4 separate regions of the Homo sapiens genome follow, and all the other regions are linked to region 1. The links come from fine-mapping of genetic effects on plasma protein levels. A gene starts in region 1. Each other region holds a variant in brackets. All regions are shown on one strand. Distances are between the middles of the regions.

Region 1 (7,552 bases):
GATCACGAGGTCAAGAGATTGAGACCATCCTGGCCAACCAACATGGTGAAACCCCTTCTCTACTAAAATACAAAAATTAGCCGGGCGTAGTGGCACACACCTGTAGTCCCAGCTACTTGGCAGACTGAGGCAGGAGAATGGCATGAACCTGGGAGGCGGAGCTTGCAGTGAGCTGAGATGGCGCCACTGCACTCCAACCTGGGCGGCAGAGCGAGACTCCGTCTCAAAAAAAAAAAAAGATTCCCCAAGGTTGTCCCTTGTTCTGTGAAGCCTCCTCCCCTCCTCACACCTACTTGCCCATCTCATTCCCTACACTGCTCTGTGGCAGCTCACTCTGGCTTCGTTTGTGTGCTTGTCAACTCTATTTTCAGATTGTGAATGACTTTAGGGCACAGACGATGTCTTGCTCCTCTTCAGGTGCCTGGCTCCTACTATACAGCCTGGAACATAGAAATGTTTAAAAAATATTTGCTGAATTAAATAGAAAAAATGAAGAAAAAGAAAAAAGAGGCACCTGGAGATGTTTTGTCCAGGTCTTAGCTGGTGGAAGGGACCTTGGGCTGTGAGCGTGCTTGAGTCTGGTCTGCCCAGCTGGCAGCCCCCACACCACCCTGCAAGTCCACATGGGATGAGGGGCACCCCTAATGTACCCAACTGGACGTGGGGGCCACCTACCAGACACGCAGCCTATGACAGAATCTCCTGCCCCTCAGAACCTCAACGCCAGTTTCTGGGATGCTGTTAATGCCCTCCCAGCCCTTTACACAACAGATACTATACACAGCACGGACAGAAGAAATTGATCCTTTGACGTTTCCATTTCCTAAGAGTTTTACAAAAATGACTTTCGGGCCGGGCACAGTGGCTCACGCCTATAATCCTAACACTTTGGGAGGCCAACGGGGGTGGATCACTTGAGGTCAGGAGTTCAAGACCAGCCTGGCCAATATGGTGAAACCCTGTGTCTATTAAAAATACAAAAATTAGCCGGGCGTGTTGGCACACCCCGGTAATCCCAGCTACTCAGGAGGCTGAGGCAGGAGAATCGCTTGAACCTGGGAGGCTGAGGTTGCAGTGAGCCAAGATCAGGCCATTTCAATCTACACTCGAGCTTAGGCAACAGAGTGAGACTCCATCTAAAAATAAATAAATAAACTAGCCTGGTGTGGTAGTACACACCTGTAGTCCCAGCTACTCAGGAGGCTGAGGTGGGAGGACTGCTTGAGCCCAAGAAGTCGAGGCTGCAGTGAGCGATGATTGCACCACTGTACTCCAGTCTGGGCAACAGAATGGGATCCTGTCTCTAAATAATAATAGAATTACATAACAAAACTTTTTTGGGTGATAAAAAAAATCCTAAAACTGGATAATGGTGATGCTGGAATATCGCTGTGCATTTACTACAAATCATTGCATTGTACACTTAGGAGAATTTTACAGTATGTAAATTTTATCTTAATAAAGTTTAAAAAAAAACCTTCCAATGGCTTACTATTTCACTTTGGCTGAAATCCATACTCATTTCCCTGGATCCCTGCATGTACGATCTGGCCTTGCCTTGGCCCTCCCACTTCAACCCTGCTCACCACCTCCAACCCCTCCCCCACGGCCCTCCTCTCCCACCAGGTGGCTCTTCCTGCTGCACCTCCCAAGCTGTTTCCCACTTCAGGCTCTGGCCCAGATCTGCACACAGCCGCATCTTTTCTTTCCTTCAATCACAGTCTAAAGGGGCTTGGAGAGGCTTCCCTGCCACACCTGCAACATCCTTCTCTCGCAGTCCTGCCCTTTGCTTCTTGCATTCATCACATAACTGTTTCATGTCTGTTTCCCCTTGAAAAGCTAAGCTCCATGAAGGCAGGGATCAGCTGCAACGGAGCACATACGAGGTGCTCAGCCTGTTGAACACACAAATGATGGTAGAACTCAAATGAGGATGCTAAGAGGGGACAAAAGTATTCCAGGCTGAAGAGCAAAAAAGAAAACCCTTGGCTTCTTAGCAGCTTTGGCTAGAACTGTGGATATGGGCTGCTCTGTTCAAATGCAGAATTTCTGTGGCACCCGTTATGTGCTTAGAAAAACTTGGCAAAGGAGTAGCAAACCTCAAAGTAGGGAGAAAACCAAAGTCAGAACTTGCCAAAGACTGCCTGTTCCTGCAACTCCTAACTGAGGCAGAAAAAAAGAGCGCTTCCGGAGGCAGGGAGTAGGCGTCAGGCCTGGGCTCCTCTGCTGGTTATTTTTAGCAGCCCAATGCAAAGCTCAGAAAGATATACTCCCTTCACATCAATATATTGGTCATTTAAGCCTCTAGGAGGAGCAGTCATTTTGTACATGGTTAAAGTGAACTAGGAGCGTCAGAGCTGTTCCCGGGACCCCTTTGAGGTCCCTGAATTGTATTAGTTTCCAAAAGCAAGGCATCAGCATGGCCATGTTCTCTGTCAAAGCTCAAGAGTCTCTCCCACGCCTCTCTCCTAGCTCTTGGTGGCTGCTAGCCTTCTTTGCATTCTTTGACTTATGACTGCATCAGTCCAATCTCTGCCTGTGTTCATATGAGCTTCTTTCCTCTGTGTGTATTTGTGTCTTTTACAAGAACACCAGTCAGATTGGATTCAGGGCCCACCCTACTCCAGAATGACCTCATCTTAACTAATTACATCTGCAAAGACCCAATTTCCAAACAAGTTCACATTCTGAGGTTCTGGTAAGGACATGAGTTTGGGGGGACACTCTCTAACTGAGTTCACTAACCCTCACCGTGGACTGGCTCAAAGGAGCAGTGGCTCAAAGAGGGGCCTGAGATCAAGCACCAGAAGTGCTGACTGTGGATGAAAAGGGGCTGGCCTGGCCCCTATCTGTGTCCCCCCATACCTGTGGTAGTGAGGGAGAAGGAAAAGAAAAATCCGTTGGGGAAAATTCTGACCTCAGAAGTGGCCTGCCTGAAAAGTCATAGAAACTGGCAAAAATAAAGCAACCTGGGAAAAAACTCAGGCTGGACCTGCACGGAGATAAGCAGACAGGGTCCAGCGCAGAAGCCCTTTGTTCTTTGCATAATTAGCAGGCTCCCGGGAAAAAGTTTCCTCTCCTTTTCAGGCATATACACAGTGGGCTCCATGGAAACCGGCACAGGGAGGAGGGGGCCTTATCTAAAACAAACCCACAGTTACACAAACAAGAGAAGCAGCGATTTGCACTTGCCTAGAGACATACCCACAGCTGCATAACATAAGGGGAGCTGCACAGGCAGTTTTACTGGTAAGAAGTTACTCAGTTACCAGGAGGAGAGCAGTGTCCTATAAAAGTTTTTTGCGGCCAGGCACAGTGGCTCACGCCTGTAATCCCAGCACTTTGGGAGGCGGAAGGAGGCGGATCACCTGAGGTCAGGAGTTTGAAACCAGCCTGGCCAACATGGTAAAATTTCGTCTCTACCCAAAATACAAAAATTAGCAGGGCGCAGTGACGTGTGCCTGTAATCCCAGCTACTCGGGAGGCTGAGGCAGGAGAATCATTTGAACCCAGGAGGCAGAGGTTGTTGAGGTTGCAGTGAGCCAAGATCGCACCATTGCACTCCAGCCTGGGTGACAAGAGCAAAACTCTGTCTTAAAAAAAAAAAAAAAAAAAGCTTTTTGCATTCAGCTGTAACCCGACAATCCACTCGGACTCCCGTCTCCACTTTGGAGAGCTTTCTTCTTTCCCTTATTAAACGTTCGCTCCAACCCCACCCTTGTGTCCACGCTCCTTAGTTTTCTTGGAGGTAGGACAAAGAACCCCGGGACTAGTTCAGACAAGGAGAAACTGCTATATTAAGGTGCACTGGCAAGACCGCAACAGTATCAAGCCAATTAGACTTGCCGTGGCTCCTGGAATGGCCCACGCACTGCACTGGCACCAAGACACCACCCAACCCTGGACACTGCACTGGGACAGGAGGCCTGAAGAGAAGAATCCTCTCAAAGGAAGCTTGAAGTACATGCTACAAAATAAACTGGCTTCTATACTCAGGGCCAGCTTCATGGGCTCACTCAGAAGGTCCCTGGCTTGCTGCAACCATTTGCTCTGACCATCTTGAAATTCTTAATAGTTTTCTGGGTTTTTTAGTAAGTGTCCCCACGTTTTCATTTTGCATTGAGTCACACAAATCATGTAGCTGGGCTGTCTTCAAAAATGTCAAGGTAGTAAAAGACAAAAGGCTGAGGAGCCTTCCAGATGAAGAGATCAAAGAGACATGACAACTAAAAGCAACTCCTGGGTTACAGGGTCAGGGGCGGACAAAAAGGAAAAGAAAAAAAAAGACATTAGAGGGACAATTGAAGGTTAGCTGTGGATGACATCACAGAAATGTCAATGGGAGTTGTCCTAATGATATTTGCCCTGTGGTTAAGAAAATGCCCTTGTTCTTAGGAGATTCATGGCGAGGTATGGGGTAAAGGATCATGACATCTGCAATTTGGTTGCCATTGGTTCAGGAAAAAAAAAAAACAAAGTACAAATGATTGAGTAAATCAGGCAAGCCTAAACCACTGCTAAACATGAATAACAGTTCTACGAGAGTTCTTTATGCTCTCCTTGCAACTTCCTGTAGGTTTGAGATTACCTGGAGATAAAAAGTTAACATCACCAGCACCGCCCGCCAGCCCGCCAGCCGAAAAGAGCGCAGGTAATTCAGTCCGAGCTGAAAGCGGCCACCCTGGGACTTGAGTCACGTGAGGCGAGCCCACATGACCCGAGGCCCCGGTCCAATATGGCGACCTCCACGGGTCGCTGGCTTCTCCTCCGGCTTGCACTATTCGGCTTCCTCTGGGAAGCGTCCGGCGGCCTCGACTCGGGGTGAGTGCAGCTCCCTGGGCCAGCCTGGTTCGGGGGGTCCCCCCTGTCCTCCGAGCTCACGAGGACAGCCCCCTGAGCTCACGGCCGCCCGTCCCCGCAGGGCCTCCCGCGACGACGACTTGCTACTGCCCTATCCACGCGCGCGCGCGCGCCTCCCCCGGGACTGCACACGGGTGCGCGCCGGCAACCGCGAGCACGAGAGTTGGCCTCCGCCTCCCGCGACTCCCGGCGCCGGCGGTCTGGCCGTGCGCACCTTCGTGTCGCACTTCAGGGACCGCGCGGTGGCCGGCCACCTGACGCGGGCCGTTGAGCCCCTGCGCACCTTCTCGGTGCTGGAGCCCGGTGGACCCGGCGGCTGCGCGGCGAGACGACGCGCCACCGTGGAGGAGACGGCGCGGGCGGCCGACTGCCGTGTCGCCCAGAACGGCGGCTTCTTCCGCATGAACTCGGGCGAGTGCCTGGGGAACGTGGTGAGCGACGAGCGGCGGGTGAGCAGCTCCGGGGGGCTGCAGAACGCGCAGTTCGGGATCCGCCGCGACGGGACCCTGGTCACCGGGTGAGGAGGCAGGGAGCCCCGTGCTGTCGAGGGCAGAGGGCCTGAGATTTGGGTTGTAGCCGTGCCTCCGTGTTCAAGTCACTTAACCAAGCTGAGCCCCTGTTTCCTCCTCTGCAGAATGGGGATAGGAATCGCTTCCTTGCAGAGTTTATTCATCATCCAGTATCATTGAGCACTTGCTTGTATCAGGCAATGTGCCGCGCCCCGGTGAGATAGCCGTGAACAACACAGTCTTTGCCTTAACAGCCCTCCCCCATTACTAGAAAAATCAACAAAAGCCGGGTAAATAGCTAACATACATTCTGATTGCTGTGTGTGCAGCAAAGCAACCAACGGGGTGAACCCGTTGTAAATAGTGTTGATTTTAGGGAGGGTGATCTGGAACACGCCTCTCCGAGGTGACCTTTGAGTGGGAACTTGAAGATGAATCACTAAGTGAGCCAAGGTCAGAACTGGAGGAAGAGCGTTTCAGTCCAAAGGAACCCCACGCACAAAGGCTCAGAGGCTCAGGGGGGCTTGTGTGTATGAGGGACTGAAAAAGGAGTGGGGTGTCAGAAACATCAACTCATCAAGACTGATGATTTTTTTTTTTTTGAGACAGAGTCTTGCTCTGTTGCCCAGGATGGAGGGCAGTGGCATGATACCGGCTCACTGCAACCTCTGCCTCCCGGGTTCAAGCGATTCTCCTGCCTCAGCCTCTGGAGTAGCTGGGACTACGGACGTGTGCCACCACGCCCGGCTGATTTTTGTATTTTTAGTAGAGACGGGATGGGGTGGGGAACGGGGGAGTGGGTTCACCATATTGGCCTGGCCGGTCTCGAACTCCTGACCTCAAGTGATCCACCCACCTCAGCCTCCCAAAGTGCTGGGATGACAGGTGTGAGCCACCACGCCCTGGCAAGATTGATGATTTGAATTATTTAAAATTATCTTAAAAATTATTTGAGTCTCAAAAAAAAAGTATTTGTTGATGATAAAGCTTGTTCTGATCCTGAGTGGGACCAGGTGGGAGAGAGCAGTGGAGAAACAAGGAAGCCAATGAAGGGCCGTAACAGGGATCAAGTGGTAGTTGGGCTGGGTATGGCCTGGGGATTGAGGGCCATAGATGGATTTGAGCTCTGTTGGGGGATGGTCATTTCTGTTAAATGAAACAGACTGTTTGCAAAGGCTTGTGGGGATTGTATTGTCAGAACCCTGTCCAGCTTCAGCTCTGACAACAGGGAGATTCCTAGGGCTGTTAAGTTGTCCCAGCTACACTCAGGCCCCAGGAGGTTCCTGGGGCATGAGGGGGAATCTAGCAGCCAGGTTGGGATGGCTAGGGAGAAAGAGCCTGACTATCTGCAGTTGCCCCTGCTGGTGAGTGAGCTTCCCACCTTCCCCGGATCCAGGTACCTGTCTGAGGAGGAGGTGCTGGACACTGAGAACCCATTTGTGCAGCTGCTGAGTGGGGTCGTGTGGCTGATTCGTAATGGAAGCATCTACATCAACGAGAGCCAAGCCACAGAGTGTGACGAGACACAGGAGACAGGTTGGATGGGGAGGCTGTTGGCAACAACCCTCTCGAGAACCAGGACCAGTGGGCTGGGCGGAGCTGTTCTTAAGTCTTTCAACAAGTATTGAGCAGCTACTTTGTGCCCAGCACTATTCTGGGTACTGGGGATTCATGGGGAGGAAGATAGGCTTATATTGAATATATAGGACAAAAAATAGTTATAGAATATGCTGAAAAGAATTGATAAGTGCTCAGAAACAAAAATAAAGTTAGGGGAAAGGGGAGAGATGGGGACCGGAGCTGTGGGTACAGGAAGAGAAAAGTGAAGAGAAAAAAATCTTCATGGACCTGCAACATCGGCGTGGCCCAGGAGCTTGTTTCAAAGCCCCACACCCTCAGACCTGCAGAATCAGAGGCAAGGCCCAAGAGTCTATGTTTTAACGGGCCTCCATGGTGACTCTGACCGACACTCAAGGTTGAGAACCACTGGGATGCAGAATACTGGGATGGGGACAGGATACCATGACCATTTTAGAGTGGGCAGTAAGCTAGGTGTGGTGGCTAACACCTATAATCCCAGCACTTTGGGAGGCCGAGGCGGGAGGATCGGTTGAGCCCAGGAGTTCAAGACCTGCCTGGGCAACATAGTGAGACCTATCTCTACAAAAAAAAAAAATACAAAA
Region 2 (6,688 bases), 23 kb after region 1:
GGAGATGGTTCTGTCCTTGCAATTTCAAGAGCCCTGACACCACCCACAGGCCAGTTCTGGATCCTTGCCATCCGCTCCAGACACCCCAACTTGGGCAGCATCTAGGCCTGGGGCTCCAGCCCACATGGTCCCAGGCCCTGCAGTTAGCTGGCTTCTCATTCTGGACATTTCTGGACACTGGAGGCGAGCGGGCGGCCCTGAAACACTGGGCCCGGCTATCTGGAGACCAGGGAGCTGCTATGAGACTGGCCGGAGGAGGAGGACGAGGTGGCGGCGCTGAGCTGGGAGAAGCCGCTGGTGCAGGATTCCAGGCTGGACATGGAGCCCCTGGGGAGGAAGGGCGTGGCACACGTTACCCTCTCACAGTGACAAGGCCCTTGGGCTGACACACAGCAGTGGAAAAGCTGTTGATGCTGCAAATCAGGCCCCAGGGCCCCAGGCCGATGCAAAGGGAAAAGCAAGTGACGCCATGAAGAGAAAAGCACTACCGAATTCCCCACACTCCCATCTCCCCAGATGGAGCCCAGCCTGCCACAGACCCATCAGGGGCTCCCCTGGCCTGAGGCCCTTGCATGGCCCTAAGGCCGCCACAGCCCAGGGAGTCCCCGGCCCTGTCTCCAGTCTCACTCCCTCCTTACTCTTTGCACTCAAATTCCATGGTCCTCCTCCTAGCTCTTGCAGTGGCCTTCGTGTGCGCTGAGCCTGAGGCAGAAGCCCATTCTCTCCTCCCCCAGCTGTCTGGTTAACTCCTACTCCAAACCTCAGGGCAGCGCCATCCTCGAGAACTTTCTTTTCTTGTATAGAGACGGGGCTCTCACTATGCTGCCCAGGCTGGTCTCAAACTCCTGGGATCAGGAGATCCTCGTGACTCGGCCTCCCAAAGCACTTGGATTACAGGCGTGAGGCACCATGCCCACCCTCCAAGAACTTCCTGCGATGAACGTGCTGTACACCTGCACAGTCCAACACACCAGCCACTGGCCACATGGGCTGCTCATCACTTGAAATGTGGCCCATGCGACTGAGGCACTGAATTGTTCCTTTTATTTCATTCTCCTTGCTAAGTTAAATTGCTGCAGGTGACTAGCAGCGACCAGATAGGACAGTGCAGCTTTAGGGCCTTGCTACTCAAAGCATGGTCTGGGAACTGGCAGCACCAGCAGTGCCCGGAGCTTGTTAGAGATGCAGAACCTCGCCAGGTGCCATGGCTTACGCCTGTCATCCCAACACTTTGAAAGGCTGAGGCAGGGGGATCGCTTGAGGCCAGGAGTTTGAGACCAGCCTGGGCAAAATAGTGAGACCCCATCTCTACAAAAAATTTTAAAAGTGGCCAGGCACAGTGGCTCATGCCTGTAATCCCAGCCCTTTGGGAGGCCGAAGTGGGTGGATTGCTTGAGGCCAGGAGTTCGACACCAGCCTGGCTAACATGGCGAAACCTGTCTCCACTAAAAATATAAAAATTAGCCAGGGGTGGTGGTACGCACCTGTAATCCCAGCTACTCAGGAGGCTGAGGCATGAGGATTGCTTGAACCCAGGAGGCGGAGGTTGCAGTGAGTAGATATCGTGCCACTGTACTCCAGCCTGGGTGACAGAGTGAAACCCTGTCTCCAAAAAAAAAAAAAAAAAAAAAAAAAGCCAGGCAAGCTAGCCCATGCCTATAGTCCCAGCTACTTGGGAAGCTGAGGTTGGAGGATTGCTTGAGCCCGGGAGTTCAAGGCTACAGTAAGCTAGGATTGCACCACTGCACTCCAGCCTGGGTAACAGAGCGAGACTCTGTCTCCAAAAATAAATAAATAAAAAGACCCCCTGGTGACTTGTGTGACCACCACACTACTTAGATCTCAGTCCAGTGTCACGTTCCATATTACTTCCCCCACCCTCTCTCCCAACCCTAGGCCAGGCCCGTCCTGTGCTCTGGCAAGGCTCTAGGTTACGTCCCTGAGCACCTCCTGGCTGGGTGGCTGATACGGTTTGGCTCTATGGCCCAAGTAAATCTCATCTCAAATTGTAATCCCCAAGTGTTGAGGGAGGGATCTGGTGGGAGGTGATTGGATCATGGGGGCAGTTTCCCCCATGGTCTTCTTGCGATAGTGAATGAGTTCTCATGAGGTCTGATGGTGTAAAAGTGTGTGGCTTCCTCTGCTCTCTCTCTCTCCTGACCCTTTGCCTTCCGCCATGATAGTAAGTTTCCTGAGGCTTCCCCAGTCATGCAGAACCGTGAGTCAATTAAACCTCCTTTCTTTATAAATTACCCAGTCTCAGGTAGGTTTTTTTTTTTTCCTTTTTCTTTTTGAGACAGTCTCGCTCTGTCGCCAAGGCTGAAGTGCAGTGGCGCGATCTCAGCTCACTGCAATCTCCACCTCCTGGGTTCAAGGCATTCTCCTGCTTCAGCCTCCTGAGTAGCTGGGATTATAGGCATGCCCGGCTAATTTTTGTATTTTTAGTAAAGACGGGGTTTCGCCATGTTGGCTAGGCTGGTCTCAAACTCTTGACCACAGATGATCCACCCACCTCGGCTTCCCAAAGTGCTGGGATTACAGGCGTGAGCCACCACACCCGGCCTCAGGTAGTTCTTTCTCACAGTGTGGAAACGGACTAACACAGTGGCCTTGGCCATGGCATCCATCGCTGCCCATAGTTATACTTGGGTGTGAGCCTTTGGTCTCTGCTTCATGATGGCAGACCCTATCTGTGTGGTCCCCCCACGATCCGAGCCACCACCTGCCCCCTGAGGGCGACCAGGAAACAGCCTTTGAACTGATTTTCTCATGAGGCTACAAGAGGACAGGGCAGTAAGGTCCTCTCATGGTGACCACCCTTGACAGGTTGGTGTGCAGCGTCTGGCCCAGCCCACCCCTCTGGCCTCCACATGCCCGGCCTCAGAATCAGCCCTCCCAGAGACAACCTTCCAATGCCTGTGTCTATTCCTCTGTGTCCCCCTGGGCCTCAGCCTGTCGCCTCACACTGAGGACCGATGGCCAAAACATGCAGCTTCACAAAGAGTGAATCGCCAGCCCCCTGACAAACTATGGGACCCCTCCTTGGATAAAGACTCTGCCCCAGTGTTCTTCACTCTGGGTGCCCATGCTCCTGGGATCCTTGGAGCTCCACCTGGAATTTGAGGTCTAGACTCAGCACCTTCCTTGAGCCTTAATTTTACCCCCACGGGAAAGAATTTAAAGCATCATTTTTAGATGAAAACCAGTGCAGATCCATCATGAAGCAGGGTGCAAAATCATAAGTGCTTTTACAGAATGCAAAACCTTGAAGAAACTGCCTGCTCCGCCTCCAGACCTTCTCCTTCATTTCTGCTGTGGCATGCACACCGCATGCCCAGGTGACAGGCAGCTTCCCCCAGCCATCTCATCCTCATGACAAACCCACAAGACTGGGGCTCCAGTGGTTCCCATTTAAGGGATGAAGCACCTGAGGCTCAAAGAGGAAAAGTGATTTGCCCGAGGTCACACAGCAACCAGGAAGTGCTGGAGGTCTTAACCATTACAGTTCCCTGTCTCTCTGAAAGCAACAACTTGGGGAGGGTTGTCTAAAAAGCACCCTTTTAGAATATTCTAAAATATTCCCATGGAATTCTAGGAGTGAGGGGAAGCCCACATGGAAGGGTTTAAGACTCCCCTTCTCCTCCCCTCCAACTGCTCCAAAAAGTTGAGCTTCTGCCCAAGGTTTCATTTGAAGGAAAATCCCTGCTTCGGAAGCAGAGTTAGACGCGCAGAGCTGGGCTCTCCTCACACCCTAGTGCGGGGCTGTGTCACCTGAGAACTCCAACCATACCCATGCTGGGGTCCCACCCCGGGAGAAGCTGACCCAGCTGGGAGACAGGAGGCCAGGCATCTGCATTGTCAATCAGCCCCAGGGTCCTTCCTGCCCAGGACCCCGCTCCGGAGCCCTCCTACCTGAAGTCCTCAGAGGCGAGCACCTCACAGTAGTAGAGAAGTTTGCACTTGGGCCCGGGGCTGTGCAGAGCCGTCAGGACATCGTCCACACCCGGGAGGCTGCAGGCCACGCTGCTGGGGGGGCTGTGCATTTGCCACTGGAGCAGGTAGACGCCGGGCCA[C/T]CGGGTCACATGGGAGCCCTGAAACACATCAGCCCTGCCCTGAGGCCCTGCGCCCTCCAGAGGACAGGTCAAGGAGGCTGAGCCTTCATGGGCTTCTCATCACCAGGCCTGGAAATTGGGGCTCTTCTCCCTCTGTCCCTTTCTCCAGTCCACCAGCAACTCCTCCTGTCAGGGCCTCTGGAAGCCATCCTTGCTATTATCCCCATATCCCTGGGACCAGAGCCTCCCTCTTAATCTGGGGAGGAGCTGACGCCTGGGGGTGGGGGTGCAACTTCAGGACAACAGAGGTGCTTAAACACCTGGATTTTGTGGGGCTTTTGCTCTGCTGAGTGGGATTTGCAAACCAAGGGGATTAGGAAAGGGATTTGGGCCGGGAGCTCACAGGTGCTTAGAGAGAATTTGTGGAGGGATCAGGGAGAGTGAGAAAGGGAAGTGTTTGTTTTTACAAGAAGAGCCACTTTGGGTTGCTCTGGGTTGAGAAGTTCAGTGGGACCCAGCAGTGGCTGTGAGGGACATGCAGGACGGCCCTCCACCCTCTCCCCACCGGGAACTTCGGTGAGATCGACAGCAACTGCCAGTGCTCGTGGAGCTGGTGCTGCGTGTGTGCATGTGTCATTTCGGGAGTCAGAGAGTGACATTCCACCTGCAATGCCAGCCTCCTGGAGAATGTGGGGATCAACAGGGGCAGCTCATATTCCAGTTACACGTTCAAGTTCTGTTCCAAGACTACAGTTTTGTTTTTTTTTTCTGAGACGGAGTTTCACTCTTTCACTCAGACTAGAGTATAATGGCATGATCTCAGCTCACTGCAACCTCTGCCTCCTAGGTTCAAGCGATTCTCCTGCCTTAGCCTCCCGAGTAGCTGGGATTACAGGCACCCGCCACCACACCTCGCTTTTTTTTTTTTTTTTTTTTTTTTTTTTTGTATTTTTAGTAGAGACGGAGTTTCACCATGTTGGCCAGGCTGGTCTCGAACTCCTGACTTCAGATGATTCACCTGCCTCGGCCTCCCAGAGTGCTGGGATTATAGGCATGAGCCACCGCACCCGGCCCAAGACCTACAGTTTCTTTTGCATCAGTTCTGAAACCACAGTGCACATCAGAAATCTGACTACTGACCTCAGGACCTTAGCACCTCCCCTTCTATCCAAACTAACTTCCAACCCCTCCCCAGCACTCAAGCTACCCTCGTGTCCACCTGCCTTCTCCCTGCGGCTTCAATTTTGTTCTTTCTGTTCCTTCCACCTGGAACATCATCCCCTCTCACCCCCTCCCAGATCCAGCCACAACTCAAGGTCTTCGTCCATACTGAAGCCACTTGAATGTATGCAGGCAACCTGAACTTCAAATTCCAATATGCTCATCCTTCCCCCTGCTTGAGTTAATGCAGTGGGTTGAACAGTGTACCCCCAAAATTCATGTCCAGCCAGAACCTCAGAACGTGACCTTATCTGGAAATAGAGTCTTTGTGGTTAAGGATTTAGGGTGAGGCCAGCCATGGTGGCTCACGCCTCTAATCCCAGCACTTTGGGAGGCTGAAGCAGGAGGATCGCTTGAGCTCAGGCATTCAAGATCATCCTGGGCAACATAGCAAGACCCCATCTCTACAAAAAATACAAAAGTTAGTTGGACATGGTGGCGGGAACCTGTAGTCCCAGCTACTCAGAAGGCTGAGATGGGAGGATCGCTTGAGCCTAGGAGGTAGAGGCTGTAGTGAGCTGTGATCATATCACTACATTCCCAGTCCCGCAAAAGTTTCCTGATCATGGATAGAGTGAGACCCTGTCTCAAAAAAAAACAGGATTTAAGATGGGGCCTAACTGTGATGGCTAGTGTCCTTACAGGAGAGAGGGGAGGGAGATTTGAGACTCAGAAGAGAGACAGACAGAGAAGAAACCCCTTTAAAGACAGAGGCAGAGATTGGGGTGATGCATCTACCCACCAATGACACCCAGGATTGCCAGGAGTTACCTAAGGCTAGGACAGAGGCATAGAATGAACCCCTCCCTACAGCCTTCAGAGGGAGCGTGGCCCTGCCAACACCTTGGTTTTGGACTTGTGAACTCCTGAACTGTGAGACAATAAATTTTTGTTGTTTTAGGCCATGTAGTTTGTGGTAACTCATTACTGCAGCCCCAAGAAACAAATACAGTTGGATCCTGTTAGAAGTCCCATTTCCCAGATGGGGAAACTCAGGTTCCAGACCCTGTGCTCCTCCCCAAGACACCAGCCACCTCTCAGCAGAGCACCCCGTGCTTTCTCGATTTTGCACCGGCTGCCATTGGGCAGGTGAGCACTTCATTACATGAGACCCTGTGTGTCTTTCCTCTGCCCTGTCCTGCAGGGTCCCTGAGGCTGGGGACCAGCAGCCCAGTATGTCCTCCGCTGTATCCCCAGAAGCCTGGCACGCAGTGGACACTCAGTGCTGCTTGGTGAGCGAATGAGTGGTCCAGAAAATGCAAACCTGGATGCTCTCCCCCTCCCGGCAGACAAGGGGAGCCTCCACACGGCTGTAATCCCTGCCCAGGACCCAGCCTTTGTCGATCAGCTGCCCGCTGGCCCTGGTCCCCGGTTCCCGGGCGCCCAGCCTGGGCGCCTGCTTGGTGTGGTACAGG
Region 3 (8,235 bases), 31 kb after region 1:
CACTCCAGCTCAGCGGGCCCTCCCCGGCCAGGCCCTGGCACCTCGTGGGGGGCTCCGCGGAGCACGCTGGCTGAATGGTAGGTCTCACTCCACTGCCACAGCTGGTCCGTGTGCTCCTGCTCCTCTTCTGTCATGTAGAGGGACTTGGGGACCAGCCCTCCTTCGGGGACATTACACTGCAGGTCAGAGATAAAGGGCAGCAGGTCAGGGCCAGTTGAGGCCTGGCTGGCCTGACCCACAGAAGGGTGATGTGTGACCCCCAAAGCCACTCATAATTGCAACCCCTTACTGAATGGGCTGTGGGCTTCCATGACCCCATTTAATCCCCAGGTCCACCAATGCAGTAGAGACTATTATTCTTCCCGTTTCACAGAGGAAGGAATGGAGGCTCGGGCAAGTCAGGCCACTCGCCCACGATCACACAGCAGAAAGTGAGTGAGCCAGGGCACAAACCCACGTTCGTCACAGCCCCATGCTCATGTCCCTTTACCCCGGTGCCGGACTGACAGCCAGGCTGGGGGGCCTCTCCACACCGCACCCCATAGCAGCTGCCTCTCCCCGTCACAGGCGGGGGTGGAACAGTCACTGCACCGTGCTCATCGAGAGATTTCCCCAAACCAAAGGCACCCTAGATGGCCAGGCCTTGGCAGAACTCCCCCTGCCACCACCAAACAATGATTACCCCCACCCCGTTTCACTTGTAGAAACACTGGGATTAGCAGGACACTGTTCAGTGTCTTTCCATAAGCCACTCTCAGATCTGCAGAACCGTTTGCTAAAAATAAGTCGTGTGTGCCGCACATCACAAACGGAGAGAACAGGCAAGCCTGGAAAAATTCCTAGGAAAAGACTTTTTTAAAATCCAGAAATGACGCAAGCTCACTGTCTGGTATTTCTGTTAGAAACAAAGAGGGCCCGGGCCACTGGGGGCCATATGAGATGACAGAGTTGTGACCTAGGATCACCCCAGCCTGTCATTTCACCCCAGGGGAGGCAATAAAAGGGGCCTGGACACTGCCTCCCTTGAAGGGGGTTCCTGATCGTTTCAGGCTGTGTGGCTGTGGGTTGGAGGCTAGTCCCAGCTCCAGGGTCCAGAGCTGCAGATACATTCGAGTCACCTCCCCTGCAGTGAATGAGCAGGTTAACTCACTGCTGCTTGGCAATGTCTTTGATGGGAATATAGAATGCGTAAGCCTTTGACTGGCCTAATCTTTAGGCTTCCAGAAACTTCTATCTCACTCACTATGTTTGAAGGACCCAGAGTAAGGCCCAACCTCAGAACAGCATCACCTCTCTTTGAAGCAGCTTCTAAAGCAAGCCCTGTGGCTGCTGAGAGCCAGCAAGACCTGCCCTAGGCAGAGTGCACATGCCGCACCCAGCCCCCCTCCACCTCCCAGCCCCACTCCGGGAATCCCAGCCTCCCAGCTAGGCATGCCCCCTCCTCAAGCCCAGGTCTGTCTGTGGACATGGAAGCCTCACCACACTCTCTCCCCCAAGGAAGTCAGGGATCACTTCTCTATCCAGATAGTCCACAAGGCCTCCGGGTCCCTGGTAGTTGCTGCCACTGTAGATGAGGAACTTCCGCCTGGTGTTCTCATTGATGAAGGGGCTGATCTGAAACCAGGACATAAGGCAAGATGGATGGTTTTTTTTTTTTTTTTTTTGAGACGGAGTCTTGCTCAGTCGCCCAGGCTGGAGTGCAGTGGCATGATCTTGGCTCACTGCAAGCTCCACCTCCCGGGTTCACGCCATCCTCCTGCCTCAGCCTCCCGAGTAGCTGGGACTACAGGCACCCACCACCATGCCCGGCTAATTTTTTTTTGTATTTTTAGTACAGACGGGGTTTCACCATGTTAGCCAGGATGGTCTCGATCTCCTGACCTCGTGATCCACCTGCCTCGGCCTCCCAAAGTGCTGGGATTACAGGTGTGAGCCACCACGCCTGACCATGGATGTATTTTTT[TA/A]TTGAGATATAATTTATACAACATAGAATTAATCATTATAAAGTGCACAGTTCAGTGGCTTTCAGTGCACTCACTAGCTTGTGCAGCCAGCACCTCTACCTAGACATGTTCATCACCCCAGAAGGAAACCCCATTCCCACCCCACCGTCACTTCCCATCTCCCCTCCCCCAACCCAGGGCAACCACCCATCTACACTCTGTCTCTGTGGATTTGCCTATTCTGGGCGTTTCTTTTTTGTTTTTGTTTCGGAGACAGAGTCTCGCTCTGTCTCCCAGGCTTGAGTGCAATGGCGCAATCTTGGCTCACTGCAAGCTGCACCTCCCAGGTTCAAGTGATTCTCCTGCCTCAGCCTCCCAAGTAGCTGGGATTACAGGCTCCCACCACCATGCCTGGCTAATTTTTGTATTTTAATTTTGTACTTTTGTATTTTCACCATGTTGGCCAGGCTGGTCTTGAACTCCTGACCTCAGGTGATCCACCCACCTCGGCCTCTCAAAGTACTGGGATTACAGGCGTGAGCCACCTCGCCCAGCCCTATTCTGCACATTTCATATAAAGGAGATCACACAGTACATGGACTTCCGTGTCTGGCCCCTTTCACTGAGCATCAGGTTTTCGAGGTCCCTCCGTGTTGGAGGATCAGTGCTTCCTTCCTTCTTATGGACGAATGCTATTCCATTACATGGATGGAACAGTATTCCACAGTTTGTTTATTCCAGATGGAATCCATTTTAACACTGAGCTCTAAGCCACATGTTGATAAAGAAGGAAGGAAGTGGGAGAGAGAGAAAGAAGGAAGGAGCCCTTGGCATGGCAGATAACAGGCCAGTTCTACAGGGAATGCCACAAGCCAAGAGATAGGTGAGGAAACTGCAATCCCCCCGTGCAGGGCCCTCTCCTGTCCCCAGCCCCACTGCGCTCTGTGCTGTGCTGGGCCCCAGGAGGCTGAGGCTGACCCCCAGTAGCTCCCTGCCCCCACCCCTGTCCCAGCTTTCCCCAGGATTCTGCAAGGACATTCCCTCCTCTTGGGGGTGGCCAGGCTTACTGCAGTCACTGGTGCTTGGGGTCTCTCCTTCCCCTGCCCACACCTCTGCAAGGAGCCCCTTCAGGACACCCCTCATTTGAACCATCTGGGTGAGGTCCACTTCCAGCCAGGACCCCGGCTGATGTGCTCGCACTCCCAAAACCACCCCAAACAGCAGGTGGACTTAATTTTCCCGGAGATTAGGACAATTCAGGATAAAAAGCTTCAGAAGCAGCTCCTGCCCCCTAGCCTCACCTGAACAGAGCCTTGAAGCACCCACAAAAGCTAGAGAACTTCCTGGCCCCTAAGTCTGTCCCCCACCCTCCCCTGCTACTGAACCCTCCATGGGTCCCTATTGCCCCTGTACATCTTCCAGCCTCCTCAGGTGCTGTCGTCCCTTTTGCTCTTTTTTGCTCAGCCACCCTGGACTGTTTCTTCAGTTCCTCCAAAGCATCAAGCTGGGTCCAGCCTCCAGGCTTTTGCCCACACTATGCAAGTGGCTGGCTGCACCCTTGTTTCAGAGGAGTGTGTGTGTGGGCGTGGGTGTATGTGTGCGCGCACATGGGTGCATGCACGCGTGTACCCACCGGGTTACAATATAGAGTATATTTCAGGTCAGGCGCAGTGGCTCACACCTATAACACAAACACTTTGGGAAGCCAAGGCAAGAGGACCGCTTGAGCCCAGGAATTTGAGACCCACGATAATGGGCATGGGGGTTCTTTTTGGGGCGACAGAAATGTTCTGGGATTGGCTAGTGGTGACAATTGCTTAACTCAGTGAATACAGGAAAGACCACTGGAGTCTATACTTAAAAAGTGTGAGCTTTATGCTATGTGAGTTTCATCTCCAAAAAGTTACTAAATGAAATGAAACAGGAAAAGAGAGCAGAGCTGCTTGCAGACGGAACCCCTCCCATCCCACCCACCCCCAGGGAGAGTCCTGGCCCAGGCTCCAGCTCTTACCAGTGTCCAGAGCACGGGGAAGACTCGGGGGGCTCGCACGATGAGCAGCCGACCCAGGGTCTCTGGGTAATTGTCCTCAACCACCTCAATCATCCGCAGCAGGGCCTTCACCCCCGGCCGCCACAGGTGCCGCATGTTGAGTCCCTCCAGGTCTAGCAGGCAGGTCCAGGAGCTGTGGCAGAAATAGCCCCAGCTCCACCTGGCTCTGCTGCCTCCCAAGGCCACCAACACCCTCCCCACAGGGGATGAACAGGGAGGCTCCGAGAGATAGGGCTGGGAGCAGATGGGGGCTCCTGCCACAGTAGGGAGCCCATGCGATGAAGAGGATCAGACTGTGGACTTCAGGGCTGAGCGCCCAAATTCAAGTCTCACCTGCACCCCTGAGAGCCTTAGGTCAGGGCACAGACCCACTTACTCATAGGACAGTGGCAAAGGTAGTAACAGTCCTCATCTGAAGCAACTGCTGTTAGGATCAAGTGAGATGGTATATACAAAGCTCTCTGCAAGGACGGGCACACCACATGCCCTCAATTATAGCTGGTTATCACAAGTGGCCATTTAGGCCTAGCATTCCATTATTGCAATGCTAAGCGTGTGGGAGTTATTTCTATCCTACTGCTCAAGGTCATCACCAAGGTCTGATTGCAAAAATTCAAAACATTGCAACCTCAGGCATAAATGAGTTAATTGTTGAAAAGATGCTAACTACTAAATAGAGCAGAGGTGCTGAGAGCATGCACTCCACAGTCAGATGGCCAAGGTTCAAATCCCAGTTCTGCCACTTGCTGTGTGATCTTGGTCAAGTCCTGAACCTCTCTGTGCCTCCATTTCATTAGTATTCATTCATTAGGAAAATAACTGTTTGACTGCAGCGGCTGGTGCCCGGGAGCCTCCACCTCCCAGATTTGTTCGCTTAAACCTGCACACACCTCTCCAAAGCATCCCTTCATGACACTCCCTCATTTGAGCCATCTGGGGTGAATTATGCTTCCGGCCAGGACACTAATGGATTGATTCCCACTTCCACCCCAACATACGTGTCCTTAGAAAATCTCTAGAGACCAGCCTGGCCAACATGGTGAAACCCCATCTCTACTAAAAATACAAAAATTAGCCAGGCGTGGTGGCAGGCACCTGTAATCCCAGCTACCTGGGAGGCTGAGGCACGAGAATCACTTGAACCCAGGAGGTGGAGGTTGGAGTGAGCCAAGATTGCACCACTGTACTCCAGCCTGGGCGACAGAACGAGACTCTGTCAAAAAAAAAAAAAAAAAATCTGCAAACAGCAAAGGAACTTTAATTTTCACAAAGATCGGGATATTTGGGGCTGAAAAGCTGAAGCAGCAGCTCCTGCCTGCCCGTGTCTCACAGGGCTGTTTAGGAGGAGGAAATGAATCAAGGTGCTTAGAAGGGCACCTGCTACATAGCAAGTGCAAGATCCGTGTTTGCATTATTTTTAAACCCTTATTATTTTTGAGAATCCATTTGTAAAAGCCACTTTACAGGCTGGGAACAGAGGCTGACGCCTGTAATCCCAACCCTTTGGAAGGCCAAGGTGGGAGGATCACTTCAGCCCAGGAGTTTTAGACCAGCCTGAGCAACAGGGTGAGACCTCATCTCTGCAAAAAAAAAAATTAGCTGGGCAAGGTGGTGCACATTTATAGTCCCCGCTGCTTGGGAGGCTGAGGTGGGAGGACTGCTTGAGCCCAGCAGGTCAAGGCCGCAGTGAGCTGTGATTGCACCACTGCACTCCAGCTTGGGTGACAGAGTGAGAGCCTGTCTCAAAGGAAAAAAAAAAGCCACTTTACAGAAGAGGAAGCTGCTGCTCAGAAAGGTTTGCTGCCTTTGGGGGCGATGCCACCGTAAGTACTGGCTCCGGGAAACAGTTCAGGAACAGAAATGCGGGGGAGTCAGAGGACAGTGGGTTCCTGCAGAGGACACTGGGTTCCTGGATGTGCCATGACAGAGCCAAGGGAGAACTCGTGGTGGAGAGCTGATCTCAAAAAGCAAAGTCAGGCTGTGAGTGGTGGCTCACGCCTGTAATCCCAGCACTTTGGGAGGCCGAGGCAGGCGGATCACGAGGTCAGGAGACCGAGACCATTCTGGCTAACACAGTGAAACCCTGTCTCTACTAAAAATACAAAAAAATTAGTCAGGCGTGGTGGCGGGTGCCTGTAGTCCCAGCTACTCTGGAGGCTGAGGCAGGAGAATCGCTTGAACCCGGAAGGCAGAGCTTGCAGTGAACTGAGATTGCACCGCTGCACTCCAGCCTGGGCGACAGAGCGAGACTCCGTTTCAAAAAAGAAAAAAAAAAAAAAAAAAAGCAAAGTCAAGGAGACTGTTGAGTGGAGTGGGAGGATAAAGTCTTCGAGCTAGAAGCCAGACAGGACCCCAGGTTCAAATCCAGCTCTGTCCTGACCGGCTCACAAGCTTCGATGGGGGCCACCATTCTGAATCTCAGTTTCCCCATGCATAGAAAACGGGGATGCTTACGGGCCCTGCCTCAAGGCCCAGAAGACCACTGTAGAAACTGGGGGAGAATGAAGCCCCTGGCACGCTGCCCAGCCCAGCACATATGCACAGTGGACCCCTCTCCACCCTCCGTCTTTGCTGTTTAGGGGGGATTTGTGCCCAGCCCAGGTGTTTGCCTGATGGGACGGCCCAGCTGCCTTGTGCTCCCCTCACACCGCTTCTGTCCTTCCTCGTTGACGGAGAGAACCTGGAAGGGAGAGACAGTGCTGCTCAACGTCCGCCTCGCTGCTTTACCCCACACAGTCCTTCCCAGGCCCGGCCCCAGGCACGGCGTCCAGGAACGAGGCCCCTGACTCACATGCCGCAGCAGCGCCTCCTCCCCCACGGCCTTCATCAAGCCTTTGGTGTCCATCTGGCCCAGGCGGAGGATGTAGAGGGGGCGGCCATCTTTGTGGATGGGGCCAAGCAGAAAGAAGAGCCCGTTATTTAGAGGACTGCTTCCGAGGGGCAGGTCACAGCTGCAGGTGAGAGCTTCACCTCCTCAGGCTGCAACCCACCAAGGCCCGATCCAGCCTTCACTTACTAACACCCTGCCTGCTTCCAAGAGGGGCTGACGCCCCTTATTGTGAAAGGCAGAAAAACAGAAGTGTTACAATGAGGATAAGGGCCAGCACAGTGGCTCACACCTATTACCCCAGCATTTTGGGGGGCAGAGGCAGGAGGATTGCTTGAACACAGGAGTTTTGAGACCAGCCTGGGCAACATAATGAGACCTCTTCTCTACAAAACATTTTTATTTATGTATTTATTTGAGACAGAGTCTTGCTCTGTCACCCAGGCTGGAGTGCAGTGGTGCGATCTCGGCTCACTGTAACCTCGGCCTCCCAGGTTCAAGCAATTTTCCTGCCTCAGCCTCCCGAGTAGCTGGGATTACAGGCGCCCACCACCGCACCCGGCTAATTTTCGTATTTTTAGTAGAAATGGGGTTTCACCATCTTGGCCAGGCTGGTCTCAAACTCCTGACCTCAGGTGTACACCCACCTCAGCCTCCCAAAGTGTTGGGATCACAGGCATGAGCCACCGCAGCTGGCCCCATAATACTTTTTGTCAACCAATCAATATATAACCTTGTTTTATGTGGTGTTTTTTGTCTGTTGGTTTGTTAGTTGGTTGATTTGTTGGTTTTTGAGACAGAGTCTCACTGTATCACCCAGGCTGGAGTTCAGTGGAGCAATCTCAGCTCACTGCAACCTCTGCCTCCCAGGTTCAAGCGATTCTCACACCTCGGCCTCCCAGGTAGCTGGGACTACCGGCATGCACCACCACGCTTGGCTAATTTTTGGTATTTTTAGTAGAGACAGGGTTTCACAATGTTGGCCAGGCTGGTCTCGAACCCCTGGCCTCAAGTGATCTGCCGCCTCGGCCTTCCAAAATGCTGGGATTACAGACGTGAGCCCACCATGCCTGGCCTCTTTGTTCTTTGAGGCAGGGTTTCACTCTGTCACCCAGGCTGGAGTGCAGTGGCATGATCTCGACTCACTGCAGCCTGAACCTCCCCAGCTTAAACAATCCTCCCACCTCAGCCTCCCAAGTAGCTGGGACCACAGGCATGCAGCACCATGCCCAGATAATTTTTTTGTATTTTTTGTGGAGATGTGGTGGAGGGGGGCGAGCTCACTATGTTGCCCAGGCTGGTCTCGAACTCCTGGGCTTAAGCGATCCTCCAGCTTTGGCTTCCCAGAGAGCTCTGATTACAGGTGTGAGCCACTGCGCCCGGCTTGTGTTTCTGTTTAAGGACACTTGAATGCA
Region 4 (8,235 bases), 15 kb after region 1:
AAGTCAAGAGATTTTAAAATAAATAAGGGCGGGGGTGCAGTGGCTCACGCCTGTAATCCCAGCACTTTGGGAGGCTGAGGTGGGCGGATCACCTGAGGTCAGGAGTTCGAGACTAGCCTGGCCAACATGGCAAAACCCCGTCTCTACTAAAAATACAAAACAGGCATGGTGGTGGGAGCCTGTAATCCAGTTACTCAGGAGGCTGAGGCAGGAGAATCGCTTGAACCCGGAAGGTGGAGGTTGCAGTGAACTGAGATCGCACCGCTGCACTCCAGCCTGGGCAACAGAGCAAGACTCCATCTCAAAAAGTCCAGAGATTGACAAAAATTCCAGCTTGCTGGTTTCTCTTTAAAGATCTGGCAGCCCTGGTGGGCGCCTGCACAAGTCACCAGGCCAGCTCAGATTCAGGGAGAAGGGAAACGGGCTCTGCCTCTTAAAAAGGAGCTGCAAAGTCAGGCGCCTTAGAGTCATTCAGGTGTATTCCTAAGAGCAGTTCCCAAGCCTGGCTGCAGATCCTGGAATCTACAGGGATCACTCTCAGTCTGACGCCACGGCCACGATGATGGCCATGATGACCATCCTGAAATGACCCTTGGCCTGAGAACCATGACCTCTGAGGGGACATCTCTGTTGTGCTGGCGGCTAAGTTGGAAAAGTGACAGTCCTGTGCACTGGAATCCAGGCCCAGAGGCAGCAGTACCTGAAGAGGGCCTGTCACAGCAAAGTTAGAGGGGTCCCAGGTCAGGTGACTCAAACATGCCAAGCGGTGTGAGTCCTGTGGCCCCTGGAATTTTTTTTTTTTTTTTTTTTGAGACAGTCTCATTTTGTTCCCCAGGCTGGAGTGCAATGGTGCAACCTCGGCTCACTGCAACCTCTGCCTCCCGGGTTCAAGCGTTTCTCATGCCTCAACCTCCCAAGTAGCTGGGATTTCAGGCATGCACCACCATGCCTGGCTAATTTTTGTATTTTTAGTAGAGGCGGGGTTTCACTATGTTGGCCAGGCTGGTCTCGAACCCTTGGCCTAAAGTGATCCACCCGCCTGGGCCTCCCAAAGTGCTGGGATTACAGGTATGAGCTGCCGCACCCAGCCTGTAATTTCTTTTTAATTTGTCATTGTGTTATTGATTTTCTTTGCCTGCCCGACATCCAGTCTCTCTTCTAGCAACAGCCCTGTCTTAGGCTAGGATTCCCCAGATGCAGAAACTAAGACAAGGAGGTGAGAGCAAGTACTTTATTGGGGAGGCGGCCCCAGGAAGCACTGGTAGAGGACAGGGAGGGAAGGCAGCCTGTGCAGAGTGCAGGAGTGAGCAAGTCTATACTGTAGGCAACAGGGGCTCAATCCTGCTGGGGGCCTCTGGGACAGTTGGTAGAACAGGTCTTGGTTGCACCACACAAGGGCGAGGAAGCTGGGGTATTTATCAGCCAACACCCATTCATCATTGGTTGAGGGCCGCTCCTGGGGGTTGACTCCCTGGCAGTGCCAGTCTGCCCTACCCAGAGACCGAATGTGCCCTGGCAACCACAGGGAGCTGTGGGAAAGTTGCAACATCTTGTGACCTGAAGCCTTCCATGGTAATGAGAGTGCCCGGGGAGGTGGCCACTTCTGCCTCCTGCTCCACGTCCTATCTAAGGTCTGCCGTCCAAAATCTAAATGCCTGAGCCCCAAAATGTGCCTCTCCTGTAACAGTACAAGTGTCACACGTTTTGGGTTGCCGGAGACCCCAAAACCCAGGAGCCCTGGCTGTGAGCCTCTAGCGTGTTGCTATCAGGGTAGTACCTCTCCCCCATTCTCCATCCAGGTGGTTTGGGTGGCACTGTCTTCTCACCCCAAGTTGCAGGTGGGCCTGAGAGATTGGTCCAGAGTTAGGCACCTGCCCCGGGTCAGCCCGTCAGAGCCCATCGTGGAACTTCTGCTGCAGCTGGAAGAAGAAACTCTCTCTGCTGGGACTGTCTAACTTCCAAGGTTAGACACAAGGAGGGCCACAAGGTGGGCCAAGGTGGGCCACAAGGAGGAGGAACGGAAACCAACTCTTCTCCAGTGTGGAGAAGACCTGATCAGAACCAAGAGATGGAGCGGGTGAGCCAGTGTGGAAAACGACTAGACTGAGGGTGTTGGGGTGGGGGTGGGGGGACATGATTTGAATGCCTGGATCCAGCTATACCTGAAGCCAGCCAGATCATTCTTGGACTTCCGAATTACATGAACCCATAAATTCCCATTTTTTGCTTGAGGCAATTTGTATTGGGTTTTGGGGTCTCCGGCAACCCAAACGTGTGACACTTGTATTGTTACAGGAGAGGCACATTTTGGGACTCAGGCATTTAGATTTTGGACGGCAGACCTTAGATAGGACATGGAGCAGGAGGCAGAAGTGTCTGAGATTCCAGTACCAACCTATGGTGCTGGTGGGGACACAAATATACAAGAGCTAAAGTCATCAAACTGCAGGCAAGCCGGCTGGGGATTCATGTGCTCCGATCCCAGCAGCATAAGGGTCCCCTCCCCCACCCACAGTAGTGACTCAAGACCCCCAGGCACAGGCACGGTGGTCTTGGACTGCACACTGAAGTCTCTGCAGCTCAACTGGGAACCCTGAGAGTTCCACATGCTGGGCCATCGCCATGGTGACACGTCTCAGCTTCTGGGGTGCTCTGCACAGAACTTTAGTATTCGGAAAGACCCCAGAAAGGTTCCCATCCTGGCGTCAATGGGTGGGCTTTCAAGGACTCTTTGGGGCCCCAAAACAAATGAAATTCGTGTGTGTGTCCTGAGTTCTCATGGGATTCTCCAAGCAGTCTGTGTCCGGAAAAAAAAAAAAATCCTGGCTTAGAGGTTTCAAATTGTGCTTTTTGCCAGCTTGGGCAACATGGCCCCGCCGCTACAAAAAAATACAAGAATTAGGCATGGTGGCGCACACCTGTGGTTCCAGCTACTTGGGGCTGAGGTGGGAGGGTCGCTTGAGCCCGGCAGGTTGAGGCTACAGTGAACCATGATCATGCCACCGCACTCCAGCCTGGGTGACAGAGTGAGACCCTGTCTCAAAAAAAAATGTGACTTTTGGGGATCCGCATTCCTCCAAAATGCCTTGTTGGGGGCTGGGCACTAAGGGAGGCAGGGAAGTGAGAGGGAGAAGTTGGTAGCCACAGCCTCTGACATCCCTGGAGGCCCTGGGCTCCCTTCCTCCCAGGCCCTACCCCAGCTCCCACTGCAGCTGCTTGCGTCCAACCTGGCTCCGCAGAGGTCCCAGGGGTCTGTGCCCCAAGAACTGATCCCAGAGGCAGCCTCTGGGCCACAGGGAGCCCTGGGCATGTTTTGCTCGCTCTGGGTCCAGGCCCCAGGAGGCCTCCAAGGAAAGCGCTGTGGCTGAGACAGGCATCAGCAGGGCCCCACAGCTCAGGCCTGATCCCAGCTCCCGCCCACCCTCCGGAGCTCCATCTTCCCCCACAGGGCTGTTCTTTCTCGATACCCGCCGCACCCACGAGTCAGCTGGCTGTTCCTTTGAAACCCGCCACCCACAGTTCCAGAGAAATCCACGGAAGAGTCACCGCCCATGAACACACGCAAGTGCAAGCCGCCTCCTCTCCCCTGACGAGCTGTGCTGGGCAGGGCTGGGGAGCAGAAGCTGGGTGGACAGATGGCCCTCGTGCCATCACACAAAACACCACACCTGCTCTGCTCTCACAAATGACAACCCCAGCCACCAGCTCCAAAACGACGAAGGCTTTTCAGAGTCCCAGGATCTGTGTGGCAGCCAGCTCCACTCTCCGTGCCCCAAGAGAGCTCACGGGAAGGACAGGTGGCACCCTGGACAGGGTTCATCACAACCTTCTGACGTCAGGACTGTGGCTGTTTTGGGATGCAGCTCTCCAGGACACCAGGTCTGGCACTTTGGTAAAACCCCAGGGGGAGGGCAGGGCAGCCCAGGAGAGATGGGCACCAGGGATTTTCATATCTGTTTAATGCAGATATAACTGTGTATCTGGTTAGCTATTGTATGCATACATAATAAGTTGAGTAGCATGCCCCAAAATTCATGTCCATCCGGAACCTTAAAATGTGACCTCGCTTGGAAGTAAGATCTTTGCAGGTGGAATTAGTTAAGGATCTCAAGACGTTATACTGGACTTAGGATGGGTCCTAAATCCAATGACTGGCATCCCTACAAGAAGAGGAGACACAGAGAGAGAGGAAGGCCATATGATGATGGAGGCAGAGACTGGAGTGATGCAACCACAAGCCACGAGGTGCCACTAGACACTGGAAGAGGCAAGGAAGGGTCCTCCCCTACAGCCTTCAGAAGGAGCAGGGCCCTACCTCCATGGTGATTCCGGACTTCCAGCCTCCAGAACATTCCTGTTGTTGTTGTTGCTGTTGTTGTTGTTTTGAGACGGAGTCTCACTCTGTCACCCAGGCTGGAGTGCAGTGACATAATCTTGGCTCACTGCAAGCTCCGCCTCCCGGGTTCACGGCATTCTCCTGCCTCAGCCTCCCGAGTAGCTAGGACTACAGGCGCCCGCCACCATGCCCGGCTAATTTTTTGTATTTTTTAGTAGAGACGGGGTTTCACCATGTTAGCCAGATGGTCTC[A/G]ATCTCCTGACCTTGTGATCCACCCGCCTCGGCCTCCCAAAGTGCTGGGATTACAGGCGTGAGCCACTGCGCCTGGCCTATTTCTGCTTTATATATAAAAATTGTGATCCTCCCTCACACGGCCCAATAACCAATCTTGAGAACCTTAACTAATTACACCTGCAAAAACCTTATTTCCAAATGAGGTCACATTCTAAGGTTCTAGGTGGACATGAATTTGGGGACATGCTATCCAATCCATTACATATGTATACAATATATATGATACACAATTATACCTGCATTAAACAGATATGCAGCCCCTTGGGGGTGATATCACTCCGGTTGCAAATGCTCTAAAGCAAGGGTGTCCAATCTTTTGGCTTCCCTGGACCACATTGGAACAAGAAGAATTGTCTTGGGCCACACATAAAATACACTAATGATAGCTGATGAGCTGAAAAAACAAAGAAAACACACACACAAAAAACCTCAGTATTTTAAGAAAGTTTACGAACTCGTGTTGGAGCACATTCAAAGCAGTCCGGGGCCGCGTGCAGCCTGCAGGCCACAGGCTGAACAAGCTAGCTCTAAAGTCTTTTAAACAACAGCTGGAAAGTTCTTGAACGAGCCCACGGGAAACCTCCAGGGTTTTAGGAAGCTGACGATGCAAGTTTATCCAAATGGAAAACATTTAATGCTGCTGGTTGGAGCAAGTGATCAGGCAAACAAAAAAACCCATCGTGTTTCACTGGCTCAAAGAGACTTTGTTGAAAACAATTATACTATTCTCATTGGACAATAAATTTTACAGCAGGGAGGGGGAATTCCAGAGAGTGCAGGGTAGAAAAAAAGAGTCTCAAACTCTCCATACTTCAACCTCTGGGAAAAAACATTTTCTAACTGCCAAGGGAAATACCACTCAGAATACACTCCCTCAGATGGGTGGACTTACCCAGAAAACACAAGCAGCTTCTTTCTTCTTTTTTTGAGACAGGGTCTTGCTTTGTCACCCAGGATGAAGTACAGGGGTGAGATCATGGCTCACTCCAGCCTTGACCTCCAAGCAATCCTTCTGCCTCAGCCTCCCGAGCAGCTGAGACTATAGGCACGCACCACCACGCCTGGCTCATTTTTTAATTTTTTGTAGAGACAGGGTCTCACTATGTTGCCCAGGCTGGTCTTGAACTCCTGCACTCAAGCGATCAGCCGGCCTCAGCCTCCCAAAGTGTTGGGATTATAGGCATGAGCCACCACGCCCCGCCCACACAAGCAGTTTCTAAAAGAGAAAGACTGCACACCCAACTCAGAGGGCAATAATTCTTGACACCTACTTTTCTCTGGGTGCAATAACGAAAAACAGGGATAGGCGACCTCAGGAAGAAAACGAGTCTTTGGATGCGAAGCATTAAGTAATCAGAATGACCACTGACATTAATGGAGCGCTTTCTGTGTTCTGGGAGCTGTGCTGAAAGCTTTACAGCTACTCCCTCATTTCGTCCCACTACAACCTATTGAGGTAGGCACTGCTATCCTCACTTTACAGATGAGGAAACTGAGGCACAGAGAGGTTAAGTCACCTGGTCAAGGTTACACAGCTAGTGAAAGGAAGGCTGGGGTTTGAGTCCTGGCCTAAATTCAAGGCCCAGGTGCCCAAACACCAACAGTAATGCTGCTTGTGGGTTGCTTCTGTCCTGGTCACAATGGATTAATGAACTAATGATGCAAGAAGCCCAAGCCAAGGCACTTCCAGCCTTTGTGGCTCAGGGGAAATTCAAAAGCCAAAAGCTTGGCAATCCCTTCCTTGGATTATTTTTAATTCCAGTCCTCCCGAAGGCAAGAAGAATGACCTTGATAATGCTTCCACGTGGGTCCCCGAGACCTCCACATGGGAGGAGAGCCGGCCGTAGCAGATGCCACCATGGATACCTGCTGGTTCTGTGGTCCAGCTTCTCTTGTCCATTGGGGGAATGGCCCTCCCCAATCCTGCTGCGGCTTCTGCAGGGAATGTCAATCACGGGACCCTAGTTCCTTGCCAGTGTGGCCCACAGGAATAAGCATGTGACTCGAGCTGGGCCAATCAGAGCCTTCCATGAGATTTGAGATGGAAAAGCATCTCTTAGAGTGTGAATCCTGAAATTATAGGCTTGGGGCTGCTGGCAGCCATCTTTCCCGCCAGGTGGAAGAAAGAATGAGGTCAGCATGCAAAGAGATGCAGAGTCAAGAGGCCTGGGTGCAGTTGAGAGGCCTGAGGACATTAAGCTCCTGGATCCAGCCATATCTGAAGCAGCACCCACCTTCAGCCATCCCTAGTACAGGACCCAGGGAATTTGCTTTGTTGCTTAAGCCAGTTTGGGCTGGTTTTCCCTAGGGAGAGAGCACTCTCAAGAGCAGAACTGAAAGGGCCTGAGGTTCCTCACCCCCACTGTTAAGGGTGGACAGCTGATAGCAGACTCCCCTCCCCCCACCCGCCTCTGGAACAGGCAGTTCCAGCTTCCTTCCGTAAAAGGCTTCTGTGTCCTTCTCTGGGGCTAGACAATAAATGTATAAAGACTGCCAGGGCAGCTTATCCCAGCATACTTGTAGGATAACACCTAGTTTTTAAGAGAAAAGCTAGAAATTCACTTAAAGATAGTTGAAAATATTGCAAGTTGCTCTCAGCAATAAATGCCTGGTGATATGGGAGCAATTAGTTTTGAGAACGTCTCCTTCCAATCAGTCGGTCTCTTATGCACACATGTGCACACACACCTTGACGCAGAGTGCAAAGCAATCTATTTTGTTCAGATACCTGAGAAGCGGACAGAGAGCCAACAGGAAGGTGGGCAAGGCTCTCTCCCAGCAGGAAGAAGGATGTATCTGAAAAGATGACACTTTCTCTCTTCCTTGGGTTTGGGGTTGAGGCTGGCGTAGATATAAGTTTCCTGGCCCTGCATTGCTGAGCCTGCATAAAGATGATTCTTGTGGCCACAAAACCACCCCTTGGCTCAGTTACTGCAGCAGAGATGAGCCCCAACTCTAAGCAAGGCCAGGAGACAAGGGTACCAGCCACTGCTGACAGAGCCATGTCAGTGAGACTCCTGCCACGCAGGTCATGAGGATGTGTAATGTGGGCTGGGCGCAAGTCAATGGGGTAGGGACTGGCGTGGCCACATCCAGGGGTGCAGAGGTGTTGTCTTCATGCAACAATAGTGACCCCATTCTGCTGGTGCTCCCAAATGCCTAAGGGAAGCCAGAAATCCTGATTTCGATGCGAAATGCCTCAATTTTTAAACCATTCTAAAGGCAAAAAAGCAACACTAAAAGCAGGCCAGATCAGGCTTCAAGTTGGTGACCCCTGACTGGCTGCCTTTTGGGGAGTCCAGGAAAGGAAAGGAGAAATGTCCTCAGGCCCCAAGGAGACCCAAGACGCTCCTGTGTAGTAACTAGGGGAACTCATGTCAATATTGAACCTAGTTCCAGAGTCATATCTGCCCCAGGGCAAACACAGCAGCCTCCACTCGCGGGGGGAATCGAGACTCCATGTTGAGACCCTGGATCTAGCCTTACCTGAAGCAAGCCCTCCTGGACTGGCCAGTTCTATGCACCCATGAATGATCATGCTTTTGTGTTGAAGCACCTGGGCATGGGTCTCTGTGGCTTACAACCAAAAACAGTCATAATTAAAC

Direction of the effects. Alleles are on the strand shown, and positions count from the first base shown. The strength of an association depends on the size of the effect and on how common the allele is.
With allele T in place of C in region 2, the plasma level of the protein whose gene starts at base 4,715 in region 1 is higher (weak association).
For the plasma level of the protein whose gene starts at base 4,715 in region 1, allele A in region 3 goes with a lower level than allele TA (moderate association).
With allele A in place of G in region 4, the plasma level of the protein whose gene starts at base 4,715 in region 1 is lower (weak association).

What was found. PIP is the posterior inclusion probability: the model's chance that the variant is causal. The UK Biobank Pharma Proteomics Project read protein levels with antibody pairs (Olink). The fine-mapping took linkage between variants from a reference panel, not from the people measured, so its PIPs are less certain.
Region 2: its variant is fine-mapped to the plasma level of the NAGPA protein (UK Biobank, PIP above 0.99).
Region 3: its variant is fine-mapped to the plasma level of the NAGPA protein (UK Biobank, PIP above 0.99).
Region 4: its variant is fine-mapped to the plasma level of the NAGPA protein (UK Biobank, PIP above 0.99).

Annotation. Positions count from the first base shown.
Region 1 is chr16:5,031,098-5,038,649 of GRCh38, reverse strand. It overlaps NAGPA (N-acetylglucosamine-1-phosphodiester alpha-N-acetylglucosaminidase), which reads left to right and starts at 4,715. Exons shown (of 10, transcript NM_016256.4): 1 at 4,715-4,821; 2 at 4,922-5,377; 3 at 6,766-6,905. The coding sequence starts at 4,736. It overlaps NAGPA-AS1 (NAGPA antisense RNA 1), which reads right to left and starts at 4,948. Exons shown (of 2, transcript NR_038913.1): 1 at 4,589-4,948. RefSeq lists enhancers at 4,604-4,783, 4,977-5,478.
Region 2 is chr16:5,008,498-5,015,185 of GRCh38, reverse strand. SEC14L5 (SEC14 like lipid binding 5) reads right to left here. Exons shown (of 16, transcript NM_014692.2): 14 at 6,538-6,688; 15 at 3,913-4,091; 16 at 1-327. The coding sequence ends at 216. Among named protein-coding and RNA genes, the nearest start is that of NAGPA-AS1, 22 kb to the left of the region's middle. RefSeq lists enhancers at 3,503-4,026, 4,027-4,550. The variant C/T (reference allele first, on the strand shown) is at 4,074.
Region 3 is chr16:4,999,293-5,007,527 of GRCh38, reverse strand. SEC14L5 (SEC14 like lipid binding 5) reads right to left here. Exons shown (of 16, transcript NM_014692.2): 9 at 6,785-6,873; 10 at 6,603-6,673; 11 at 3,955-4,126; 12 at 1,480-1,614; 13 at 42-176. Among named protein-coding and RNA genes, the nearest start is that of NAGPA-AS1, 30 kb to the left of the region's middle. RefSeq lists a silencer at 6,110-6,301. The variant TA/A (reference allele first, on the strand shown) is at 1,964.
Region 4 is chr16:5,015,982-5,024,216 of GRCh38, reverse strand. It overlaps SEC14L5 (SEC14 like lipid binding 5), which reads right to left. Exons shown (of 16, transcript NM_014692.2): 16 at 5,060-8,235. Among named protein-coding and RNA genes, the nearest start is that of NAGPA-AS1, 14 kb to the left of the region's middle. The variant A/G (reference allele first, on the strand shown) is at 4,589.